Regions from separate parts of the Homo sapiens genome. Here region 1 is linked to region 2. The links come from fine-mapping of genetic effects on plasma protein levels. A gene starts in region 2. The other region holds a variant in brackets. All regions are shown on one strand. Distances are from middle to middle. Region 1 overlaps SPINT2 (serine peptidase inhibitor, Kunitz type 2). Region 2 holds the start of SPINT2 (serine peptidase inhibitor, Kunitz type 2).

The links. PIP is the chance, under the fine-mapping model, that this variant and not a neighbour inherited with it causes the effect. Sun 2018 read protein levels with aptamers (SomaScan).
Region 1: its variant is fine-mapped to the plasma level of the SPINT2 protein (Sun 2018, PIP 0.95). The variant lies in the coding sequence of SPINT2. If it changes the protein, the assay may bind it differently, which can mimic a change of level.

Annotation. Positions count from the first base shown.
Region 1 is chr19:38,290,416-38,294,343 of GRCh38, forward strand. SPINT2 (serine peptidase inhibitor, Kunitz type 2) reads left to right here. Exons shown (of 7, transcript NM_021102.4): 6 at 122-160; 7 at 1,425-2,200. The coding sequence ends at 1,591. Among named protein-coding and RNA genes, the nearest start is that of C19orf33, 12 kb to the right of the region's middle. The variant G/C (reference allele first, on the strand shown) is at 1,430.
Region 2 is chr19:38,261,306-38,269,767 of GRCh38, forward strand. It overlaps SPINT2 (serine peptidase inhibitor, Kunitz type 2), which reads left to right and starts at 3,268. Exons shown (of 7, transcript NM_021102.4): 1 at 3,268-3,693. The coding sequence starts at 3,588. RefSeq lists enhancers at 1-821, 822-1,758, 1,899-2,816 and a silencer at 2,973-3,292.

The sequences.
Region 1 (3,928 bases), 27 kb after region 2:
AAGCTGGAAGAAAGCCCCTCAGAAAGAGCTCCCCATGGAGGCCCTGGCTGAGGGGATCCCCTGCGGCAGCTCTGTGGAATGGGGGCTGTGAGCTGACCTCAGGCTGTGTGTTCTCTTCCAGGCCAGCAGGAGAATCCTCCCCTGCCCCTTGGCTCAAAGGGTAAGTGGCCCCTTACCCTCCTCCTGCCATCAGCCTGCCTCCTCCCTTCCTTGACTGAGCTCAGCCCTGCCCAGCTGTGGTTTACATTATCCTTCACTGTGAACATCATCTTGGCAGAAAGTCATGTTTCTGCGTGAGAATGGCGAGGTGGTGGTTTGTCCCACCGTTCAGTGTACACAGTTGGGGCTGGAGTGAGTCAGTCACAAGGCAGGCCCTGCCCAGGCGGCGTGGGTGACTGGGGATGAGGTCTTCCTGTTGAGCATTTGAGGACTGCTGCACACGGGCCTGAGGCTGGCCTGAGGTGTGGAGGGAGCGCTGCTATGTGGGGCATAAGAGTTGGTCACGGGTGACAGGACGGAGGACCACGGGCCAGGGTGTTTCCCAACACAGTCTGGTCTGAGCGGGAGGCCAGGCCTCTGGCCTGTGTTTCTGAGCTTGAGTTGCAGGTGATAATGTTGGCACAAAAGACCTGCCATGCCAGTCTGGCCTCTTTCTCCACCTGTTTCCCGGTGAAGGAGCCAGGACCTGGCCTGCGAGTCTGTCCTGTTCTAGCAGTGAAGCCTGGTTTGCCAGGCACGGGGCTGGGAAGCAAGCAGTCTGGGTCTGGAGGGTGGCCCCAAAAAGGCCAACTCTGCAGCTCCACAGCCACATGGGGGAGGCTGCCACAGGTCACACTCCTTAGCCGGATCCCCTCCTGAAGAAAAGCATCTGAGCTGACCAGCGAGACTGCAGTGGGGCAGACACTATTAAATTTGCTGGCACAGCTCTGAGTACCCCCTCGCTTCCACCCTGACTTCATCCCGCAGTAGCTCTCAGCCCTCCCAGCCCCTGCAGGGCCACGTCTTTCTCTATTGCCGGTCAGCGTGTGTGTGCACAAAGCCCCTAAGGTTTCATGTGTACACACCGGTGCTAAGTGTTTTTTACACCCTTGTGCATCTCTCGGCCTGGGGCTCCTGTGCAGGTTGCCCTGAGAGTTGGGTTTTTAGTTCAAAAAGAAGGAACACAGATGACTACTCTGCTGGCGACACGGCCACTCTGCTGGCACGCACATAGCATGGCGCCTCCTTTTTTGGGGGACTCTCCTTGGTGGCATCTCTGGCAGGCTGTGTCCTCTCCAGCTGCAGTTCTGGACCCTGTCTGGGTTGGGGAGGGGCATTTGGTCCTCAGGCTGAGCCCACCTGGATTCCCCAGGCCCTTGGTGAGCGCCACTCTGGCTGCAACTCCCCTTGCCTGGCCCGTCCTGAGGCCCCTCTCTCGTCCTCAGTGGTG[G/C]TTCTGGCGGGGCTGTTCGTGATGGTGTTGATCCTCTTCCTGGGAGCCTCCATGGTCTACCTGATCCGGGTGGCACGGAGGAACCAGGAGCGTGCCCTGCGCACCGTCTGGAGCTCCGGAGATGACAAGGAGCAGCTGGTGAAGAACACATATGTCCTGTGACCGCCCTGTCGCCAAGAGGACTGGGGAAGGGAGGGGAGACTATGTGTGAGCTTTTTTTAAATAGAGGGATTGACTCGGATTTGAGTGATCATTAGGGCTGAGGTCTGTTTCTCTGGGAGGTAGGACGGCTGCTTCCTGGTCTGGCAGGGATGGGTTTGCTTTGGAAATCCTCTAGGAGGCTCCTCCTCGCATGGCCTGCAGTCTGGCAGCAGCCCCGAGTTGTTTCCTCGCTGATCGATTTCTTTCCTCCAGGTAGAGTTTTCTTTGCTTATGTTGAATTCCATTGCCTCTTTTCTCATCACAGAAGTGATGTTGGAATCGTTTCTTTTGTTTGTCTGATTTATGGTTTTTTTAAGTATAAACAAAAGTTTTTTATTAGCATTCTGAAAGAAGGAAAGTAAAATGTACAAGTTTAATAAAAAGGGGCCTTCCCCTTTAGAATAAATTTCAGCATGTGCTTTCTTTATGGGAGTCCTAATTTCAACCCTACCAAAATGATCACAAGACACTATCTGAGGTGTCCCATTCTAGAAATAGACCCCTCAAAATAGCGTCTTTCAGATCTTTTTGAATGAATCCACAAGATGAAATAAATGTCCTATTACTGAGTGCCCGTGAACTTTCGCCAAACCACACTTAGCCTCACCACCTGTGAACACTGATATTTTATTACTCTATTTCACTTTTTAAAACTTCTGGCTACAACCCTCTGAACTGATCTTGATGTCCCACTATAGACTGTAGCCCACACCTTGAAGCACTGCCCTCGAGGGCGCAGGAGGGGCGCATGCTGTCCAGGGAGGACCAAGACCTTCCGGGGTTGGAGGGGCTTAACCGAGTCCTTGTGGCGTCCATGACGCTTCTCCTCTCGTGGTTCTGTGCTCTCTGCATCTTGAAGGGGTGGTGGGAGGGCGCTCTAGGTCAGGCCTTGCACCGCCTGCCCTGGGCTTTTCTGTCAAGTCTCCAACACACCCCTGTGTGGGAACGGGGACAGAGAACTGCCCGGCTGAATTTGGCCTTCAGGCCCAATCCTGCTGCCTCCTGTGGGTGTTCCTTTCCTGACACTAGACTCTAGAAGCCCCTTTCCTCCCTCCTCTATTCCAACAAGGAGGTCCTGGGGTACAGGCATCTGGGCGCCCCATGAGGTCCGGCAAGCAGCTGGACTCTACCTGCCTCAGAGACACAGGAGGAGTGGCCAGGTGCAGTGCCACAGGCCAGACTGCTTTCGACTGCTTGGAACCAAAGAACTTCCATGTCTTTCCCTTGGCCCTTCCTAGAAATCCCTTAGGGCTTAAAACTCTCTTCCAGAAGCAAGTTGGGCAAATAGCTCATCTGCTCCTGCCCCGCCTCCCTCACAGCAGATGCCGCAAAGGGATCCTGGTGTCCTCCCAGCTGATCCCCGCATGCCTCAGCCCACTCTCCAGTGGTCATTGCAGCTGGCTCGGGGTTGGTGAACAAGTGGAATCTACTTACCACGTCCCAGACAAATCAGACACACAGGGGTCTGGGCGAGCCTGTGGTCCAGGGAAAGAGGGCCTGGGAGTTGGGCAGAGCCTCTCCACCTGCAGCGCTCTGTGTGTGGCAGTGGGCGCGGCCCCTAACCCCTGCAAGCCTGCAGAGTCTGCACATGCACCTCTGCCCAGCAGGAGTCTTTCTCCACCAACTCCAATATGGACTGTCTCCTATCTCAGTCATGTTGAAAAAAAAAAAATTGTGCCTTTGGACTTTTTTAAAAACTTGAGAATTGGCCGGGCACAGTGGCTCATGCCTGTAATCCCAGCACTTTGGGAGGCTGAGGTGGGCGGATCACCTGAGGTCAGGAGTTCCAGACCAGCCTGGCCAACATGGTGAAACCCCCTCTCTACTAAAAATACAAAAAATTAGCCGGGCGTGGTGGCGGGTGCCTGTAATCCCAGCTACTCGGGAGGCTGAGGCAGGAGAATCGCTTGAACCTGGGAGGCAGAGGTTGCAGTGAGCCGAGATCACGCCATTGCACTCCAGCCTGGGTGACAGAGCGAGACTCCTTTCAAAACAAAAAAGCAACAAAAAAACTTGAGAATCACTTAATTCTACCATAATAGGAAGTTAGATGAAGGGAATTCTCTGAAGCCCAGTTGAGCTTCTGTAGGTTTCTAATACAATGAGCCTTTATATGTTTCTAGTGCAGAAGCTGCTGCTCTGTGACCCACTTCTCCTGCCTAAACCTGCCCCTTCTCACGGCAAGGGAGGCCTCAGCCCCTCCGCTCCTGGCAGCTCAACTCCATCCGGGCCTCTGGACTCTTTCCAGGGCGACTGGTGGGCCTCACCACAGCAGACACTCTTCAGGCTGCTGCCGCC
Region 2 (8,462 bases):
GCTCTGTCACCCAGGCTGGAGGGCAGTGGTGCAGTCTCAGCTCACTGCAACCTCCGCCTCCCGGATTCAAGCTATTCTCCTGCCTCAGCCTCCCGAGTAGCTGGGACTACAGGCGCCCGCCACCGCGCCCGGCCTCTTTTTTTTTTTTTTTTTTTTTTTTTTTGAGAACGAGTCTCGCGCCGTCGCTCAGGCTGGAGTGCAGTGGCGCAATGTCGGCTCACTGCAAACTCCACCTCCCAGGTTCAAGCGATTCTCCTGCCTCAGCCTCCCAAGTAGCTGGGACTACATGCGCCCACCACCACGCCCGGCTAGTCTTTTGTACTTTTTTTCAGTAGAGACGGGGTTTCACCGTGTTAGCCCAGATGGTCTCCATCTGCTGACCTCGTGATCCGCCCACCTCAGCCTTCTAAAATGCTGAGATTACAGGCATAAGCCACCGCACCCGGCCCTTCTTTTTTTTTTTTTTTTTTTTGAGACGAAGTCTCACACTGTCGCCCGGGCTGGTGTGCAGTGGGGCGATCTCGGCTCGCCGCAGCCTCCACCTCCCGGGTTCAAGCGATTCTCCTGCCTCAGCCTCTCCAGTGGCTGGGACTACAGGCGCGCGCCACCACGCCCGGCTAATTTTTGTATTTCTAGTAGAGACAGGGTTTCACTATGTTGGCCAGGCTGGTCTCAAATTCCTGACCTCGTGATCCGCCCACCTCGGCCTCCCAAAGTGCTGGGGATTACAGGCGTGAGCCACCTCTTTTTAATGAACTCTGAAGGATGATAAAGGCCAAGGGACAAACATTCCAAGCATCAGGAATGTTGATGCTTGGAATGTTTCTCAGGACAGATATGGAGATGCCCAGGCCTCCCAAAGTGCTGGGGATTACAGGCGTGTGAGCCCGGCCTCTTTTTTTTTTTTTTTTTTTTGAGAACGACTCTCGCGCTGTTGCTCAGGCTGGAGTACAGTGGCACAATATTGGCTCACTGCAAACCCCGCCTGCCGGGTTCAAGAGATTCTCCTGCCTCAGCCTCCCGAGTAGCTGGGACTACATGCTCCCGCCACCACGCCCGGCTAATCTTTTTGATTTTTTCACCGTGTTAGCCAAGATGGTCTTGATCTGCTGACCTCGTGATCCACCCGCCTTGGCCTCCCAAAGTGCTGGGATTACAGGCATGAGCCACTGCGCTCAGCCCTCCTTTTGAGTTTTTGTGTTTAAAGTTCAAAACTGGACAGATGCAGTGGCTCACGCCTGTAATCCCAGCACTTTGGGAGGTCAAGGTGGGCGGATCGTGAGGTCAGAAGTTCGAGACCAGCCTGGCCAACATGGTGAAACTCCATCTCTACAAAAAATACAAAAATTAGCTGGGCGTGGTGGCGGGTGGTGCCTGTAATCCCAGCTACTCAGGAGGCTGAGGCAGGAGAATTGCTTGAATCCAGGAGGTGGAGGTTGCAGTGAGCTGAGATCACAGCATTGCACTCCAGCCTGGGCAACAGGTGAAACTCTGTCTCAAAATAAAATAAAATAAAGAAAGAAGAGGCCTATACCTTCTTCCAAGCCTTGACGGCTCAGCACATACTTCTCTGTTTTCATGCTCAAGCCTAGGTTTAGTAGGCCTGAGTGGCAGTGGGAGATTCAAGTGCTGGGGGAGACCTTTGGCCTCACATTCAGATTCCACCTTGAGTCCCATGATCTCATTGCAAGGTTAGACTTCCATTGTTTAAGGTAAATACCATTTTGATAACTCAGTTACGGCTTTTCATGTATTATTATGCTAGGAGGGAGGCTGAAGAGTGGGAGTGGCCCTGGCTCCTGAACACACTATTCTCTTTCCTGCCTGAAGGCCTCCGCATGTGCCATTCCTGATTCTTGGAATGTTTGTCCCTTGGCCTTTATCATCCTTCAGAGTTCATTATCAAAGCCACCCCTCACAAAGCCCTTCCTCCGCCACCCCATTCAAAAGATCTCTTGTTATTTTCCATCCCAGCCCCTGATTCCTTTTCTGTATAGCACTGTCAAAGTGTTTTCAGGCCAGGTGTGGTGGTTCACGCCTGTAATACAACACTTTTGGAAGGATGAGACAGGAGGATCCCTTGAAGCCAGGAGTTTGAGACCAGCCTGGGCAACATAGCAAGTCCCCTGTCTCCACAAAAAATTTAAAAATTAGCTGGATGTGGTGGCTCACATCTGTAGTCCCAGCTACTTGGGAGGCTGAGGTGGGAGGATCCCTTGAGCCCAGGAGGTCAAGGCTGCAGTGAGCCAAGATCACTCCATTGCACTCCAGCCTGGGCAACAAGAGCAAAACTTCCATCTCAAAAAAAAAAAAAAAAAGAAATAATCTAAAAGTGTTTTCAATAATAATGCATTTATGTTGATTACCTTGTTGGCTATCCTCTACTCGTGTGCCTGCCCCACTCCATTCCCCTTTCTAGAGTCTGTTCACGTAACTCCTCTTCCAGGAAGCCCTCTTTGACTCCCAGGCTTGGTCAGGTGTCTTCTCTGGGTTTCCCCAGGGGCTTCCTTCCTCTCAATTCTGATGCTGCCTGTGCTAAGTATTTGTCTCCATATCTGTCCTGAGAACCTTGGAGCCAGGGCTCGGGGCTGTTTTTGCATGGGCCTATCACCTCCTCCAGGAAGCCCTCCTTGGCCCTCTCTCAGGCTGGATGGGAAAGCTGTCTGGGCTCCCATCATGCCCTGGTTTTCTAGCGACCCAGCCTCTGATCCCTAAGCTTGGCCTTCCCCATCACAGCTTTCATCACTTTGTGCTAAGCTTCCGCTATCACTACTCTGGGCCGTTCCTGTTTGGTGACTCAGGGACCAGTCTGGCATGGCCACCGCTGGGTCCCCAGCATTAAGCCCTGGAGCATGAGCCCAGTGAACTTTGAAATTCAGGAAGGAATTCACAGGAAAGCTGCGGCGAGGCGGGCAGAAAACCACAGGCTTCCAAGAAACGCGTGTCTGCCGCCCCCTCCTCCCACCCTGAGGCCAGTCCTAGAGCGAAGGCCCTCCTCCGACGTCGTCACCAAGCCCAAGGGAAGGGTGGCAGGTGCTCAGCGGGCAGACGCCCCGCCCCGCCCCGCCAGGTTCTGTTGGGGGCGAGGCCCGCGCAAGCCCCGCCTCTTCCCCGGCACCAGGGGCGGGCCCAGGTGCGCCCAGGGCCGGGGAGCGGCCGCGCAGGTGCCTGCCCTTTGCGCCTGCGCCCAGCTCGCCCTGCCTAGCCAGGTGCGCCCCGCCCCCTGCCTGCCCGGCCACCTTCGGGAGCCGCTTCCAATAGGCGTTCGCCATTGGCTCTGGCGACCTCCGCGCGTTGGGAGGTGTAGCGCGGCTCTGAACGCGCTGAGGGCCGTTGAGTGTCGCAGGCGGCGAGGGCGCGAGTGAGGAGCAGACCCAGGCATCGCGCGCCGAGAAGGCCGGGCGTCCCCACACTGAAGGTCCGGAAAGGCGACTTCCGGGGGCTTTGGCACCTGGCGGACCCTCCCGGAGCGTCGGCACCTGAACGCGAGGCGCTCCATTGCGCGTGCGCGTTGAGGGGCTTCCCGCACCTGATCGCGAGACCCCAACGGCTGGTGGCGTCGCCTGCGCGTCTCGGCTGAGCTGGCCATGGCGCAGCTGTGCGGGCTGAGGCGGAGCCGGGCGTTTCTCGCCCTGCTGGGATCGCTGCTCCTCTCTGGGGTCCTGGCGGCCGACCGAGAACGCAGCATCCACGGTGAGGGCCGGGCGGGTAGGCTGGAGGCGGGGCGCAGGGGGCAGAGGCTCGGGGGTCAACGGGGGTCTGAGCAGGGAGAACTGGCGGGGGAGGAAACTGGGGGCTACTTGATGGCGTTCAGCGGGTGTGGTGGAACCAGCCCTGGAGGATTGAGCCTTGAAATGAGGTTTGGGAGCCTTCGACAGCGAAGACGGGCGGAGGAGCGAGGGTTAGGAGAGTTTCCTTCGGGTGGAGGAAGAGTCAAGGGGTATTGACCAAGAAGGCGTGGCACTGCCCCTTCCTGTGGCAAGAACGGGGTGAGGAGCCGAATTGAAGACCAGCCTTCTCCTGGCGGTGGAAAGTTCCATGGCCAAAGCTCAGGGAGAGGCCAGGCCTGTGAGATGGTGGGGGTTGGGTTGGGTGACCTGGTGGCCGTTTTAGACTCGGAAGAAGCCCATCTCACCCCTGCCTCTTTGGAGATTGGACAAGAGCCTCCCCTGAAGTTTTTGTAGTTGAGTTGCAGTAAAGTAGGTGCCCGAGAAGGAGGGAGCAAGAAAGGAAACAAGCTTTGGGGAAGAGGAAGCTCTGCTAAGGCTCGAGAGAGTATTGGCGTTGAGCAGCTGGTGTTGGGGTCTTTGGATTGGCCCTTAGAAGTCGGTGGTGAATAAGGTGATTTAAACTTCTACACTCTTAAGGAAGTGTGGTCTGAAAGGTCTCTTTGAACAAGTGTTGTTATAACCTTAACTGCTTCAGACAAGCACCAGCGTGTTTTGAAAAGAGCTCTCTTGAAAGCAAGAATTCATTGATTCAGCAAAACTTACTGAGGCCCTGCTACGTGTCAGGCACTGGCGCTGGTTATAACAGTTAACTCAGACTAGCTGGGTTCCTGCATTCACAGAGCTAATATTCCAGTGGGAGAGGCAGAGCTAGTGAAGGTTTAAAAAGCACTTGCCATGAGATTAAGTTACTGAGAATTAAATGAACCAGGTGAAGTACACCAACAGGGTGACGTAAGATGTTGGGGGCGGCTTTAGCTCAGGTGGTCGGGGGACGTCTCCGTGAGGAGGGTGACATCTGAGCTCTAACATGAAGAATGAGGCAGTAGCCACACGGAGACCTGGGGGACCAGTGTCCAGTTGCAGGCAATAGAGTACAAAGGCCTTGAAGCTGGAACAAGCTTGGTTGGGTTCAGGGAAAAGACAGAGCCAGCCTGGCTGGAGCAGGCGTGAAGGAGGGGAGGACTGGAGGAGGATGGGAGGTGGGAGAGGTTGGCTGCAGCCAGATGGCCTAGGGCTTTATAGACAGGTGCTGGTGCTTGAACCCGGGAGGCGGATGTTGCAGTGAGCCAAGATCGCGCCACTGCATTCCAGCTTGGGCAACAAGAGTGAAACTCCCATCTCAAAAAAAAAAAAAGAAGGCCGGGTGATGTGGCTCATGCCTGTAATCCTAGAACTTTGGGAGGCCAAGGCGGGCAGATCACTGGAGGCCAGGAGTTCAACACCACCCTAGGCAACATGATGAAACCCCGTCTCTACCAAAAATACAAAAATTAGCTGGGCATGGTGGTGCACACCTGTAGTCCCGGCTACTCGGGAGGCTGAGGCAGGAGAATCGCTTGAAGCCCAGAGGCGGAGGCTGTAGTGAGCTGAGATCAAGCCACTGCACAGCAGCCTGGGCGACACAGCAAGACTCAGTCTCAAAAAAAAAAAAAAGAGCAGGCTAGGTGTGTACCAAGTCATCACCTGTGGTAACTTCTGGGGACTGGTTAATTTCTCTGTGCCCTAGGCAGGAGAAAAAAGTGAATTGGTGGGGAGAGGCTCAGCTGTAGGTGACTGGGAGTCAGGAATGCAGACGTTGATCATTCTTGCAATTCGAACCAGAATTTGGCAGCTCTGCTGGACTTTTTCAGTTTAAGTAATTACGTTAGGATGTACCTCCCAGTTACCTGGCCTCTTGCTACCTCTGGTGCTTACTCTGAGCTGGGACATGGCCTCTTGCTACCTCTGGTGCTTACTCTGAGCTGGGATGTGCCATTTAACCTTTGAAACAGCCGGGTGCGGTGGTGAAGTTACTTGCCTTGCCCGAGGTCACTCGGTAGTAGTAATTGACAAAGCCAGGTCTCACTGCAGAGGCCTTCTCTGTTCAGAGTGGCCTACCTGACTGCTGCTGCCGACTGGACCTACTGACCTTTCAGAAGTACTAGTGTCTGACTGGGTGAACTCATGCCCTCACTCATCGTAAGTTCTGTTTGTTTGAAAGCTTGAACAGCTTAATCGGAGGCAGAAGGCAGTTTTGACTTTTTTTTCCTCGCTCCTTCCTGATTGCTTCTGTTTTCTCCGGAAGCGAGTCATCCACTGGGAGTGTGGTGTTGCTGAAGCTCCATGCAGTGGCTCAGGTGCTGCTGGATGAGTGTGGTGGTGAGGGAGGAGTGAACAGAGAATGTGTGAGGGAGGGAGGATGGGGGTTGGTCAAGGAATTTATTCTGTATGAAAACATGAGGGGGCGGAGGGCCGAGGTAGATGGTAGGGCCAGCAGATTGTTGGAGTTGAGGTTCTGAAGGGAATGAACCAGACAGATAGGATGCAGTGGGTAGTGAGTGAGATGCATGAGAGGGAGGTTCTGAAGAGGTGGCAGTTACTGAGACAGGTCTAGGTGTGACCCTGAGAGGAAGCGGGGGGGCGAGGGTGGGAGGAGATCAGGTGGAGGTCTTGGGACCTAGAGGTCAGAGGACCATCTACCTGGATATAGAAATCTCCAAGAATGATCATAAGAGCAGCGGGAGAGGTGGCAGGCCCGGAGCTAAAGTTGGGAAGGAAGAAGTAGTTGTCTGGGTTGGCAGATAACGTGCCAGGCGGGGTAGTGAATGATTTACTCTAATAATGGAAGTCTCCCAGCTGGGGATTTTGGGGAGGGTGGAGGGAGAACAGTCCAGAAGCAGCTCCCAGGAGCAAGGAGACCTCCCCACTTGGAAGGGCCCCAGGAGGTGTGCCCTCAGGGGAGATTCCAATTAGGTAAGAGGGTGGCAACAATGTTCAGAGGAGATTGAGGACATGGAAGATTTGCTCAAGACCAGTCCTGAGTACCAGAGGGCCCAGGAGTTGGGGGAGGGGAGATGGGGACAAAGCAGGCCCCACCGTGTGAGAGTGAGGGTTAACTCAGGGGTCGGGGCTTCTTGTGAGAAGCATCATGTGGTCTATGATTGATGTGTTGGTGACGCTCTGAGTAGTGAGGGCAGGTGGGAAGGGACAGGTGGACGGGCCGGACAAAGAGTGTCCTGACTCCAACCTCTGCAGACAGAGGTGGGGGGAAAGCTGAGCTTATGCCAGGTGAGAAAGCTCCCCTATCTAGCGTTAGGGACAGTTACCGTCTGGAGTGGAAAGCACGCAGAGATTATAAACTGTCCACTCCCAGGAAGCTTCACACAGCCTTTATGTGACTTGTACTTTTTCCAGAATTGGGATTTTTTAAACGTAAAAATGTAGTTTTTGGCTTTGCCTGAAAGACATGAAGATGTAATGGAACCAAACCAGAACACAGGCCTGTTTTCCTGCCCAGCAGTCCCTGGCAGGAGCCGAGTACCTCTTTCAGGCAGGAGATATGCCATTCCCTAGCCTGTAGATCTTACTCAGCTTGCCTCATCTCAGCTACTGCTTGCCCTCTGTCTCTGTAGGCCTTTGGCTTGTGACCCCTACCTTAAACATATGCTCCATTTAGTAAATGGTAACACGTAACAGTTCTTTATAAATTGCACATTACAGTGTGAGACAGAGAGAGAGCATGCGCGCGCGCGTGTGTGTGTGTGTGTGTGTGTGTTACGGCTGGCTGTTGGGGAAATCCTTATATCAGGTAGCTGCAGATATGCAGGATTTTTTTCTTTTCCTTTTCCCCACCCAGGTGGTAAATCCTGGTATTTGGAGGGTCCTGAAATGTGTAATGTTGCTCAACACCAGGCCAGATCATATATTTCCTCAGCAGAATAGAAACTTGAAAGGTCCTTTAGGAGTGGCCAGTTAGGTGTAGTTCTTGCTGCCAATAACTTTGTGCCTGGCCCTGGGCATCAGAACTTGTGTTAATGGTTACTTGGCTTAAGGTCTTTTGTTTTTGTTTTTGTTTGTTTTTGTTTTTTTGGGTTTTTTTTTGAGACGGAGTCTCTCTCATCGCCCAGTCTGGAGTGCAGTAGCGCGATCTCAGCTCACTGCAATCTCCACCTCCCGGGTTCACATCATTCTCCTGCTTCAGCCTCCTGAGTAGCTGGGACTACAGGCGCCCGCCACCACGCCCGGCTAATTTTTTGTATTTTTAGTAGAGACAGGGTCTCACCACCGTGTTAGCCAGGATGGTTCAAGGTCCTTTGTTGATTCTTCTTGGGAATTTCCACTGGAGGCAAGCAGGGCAACACTTATTTGAGAACCTCTCCTGCACCTTTTTTTTTTTTTTTTTTTTTTTGAGACAGAGTCTTGCTGTGTCACTCAGACTGGAGTGCAGTGGCGCCATCTTGGCTCATTGCAGCCTCTGCCTCCTGGGTTCAAGTGATTCTCCTGCCTCATCCGCCTGAGTAGCTGGGGTTACAGGTGTGCACCACCACACCCAGCTAATTTTTGTATTTTTAGTTGAGATGGGATTTCTTTTCTTTTTTTTTTTTTTTTTTTGAGACGGAGTGTCTCGCTCTGTCGCCCAGGCCGGAGTGCAGTGGCGCGTTCTCGGCTCACTGCAAGCTCCGCCTCCTGGGTTCACACCATTCTCCTGCCTCAGCCTCCCGAGTACTGGGACTACAGGCACCTGCCGCCACG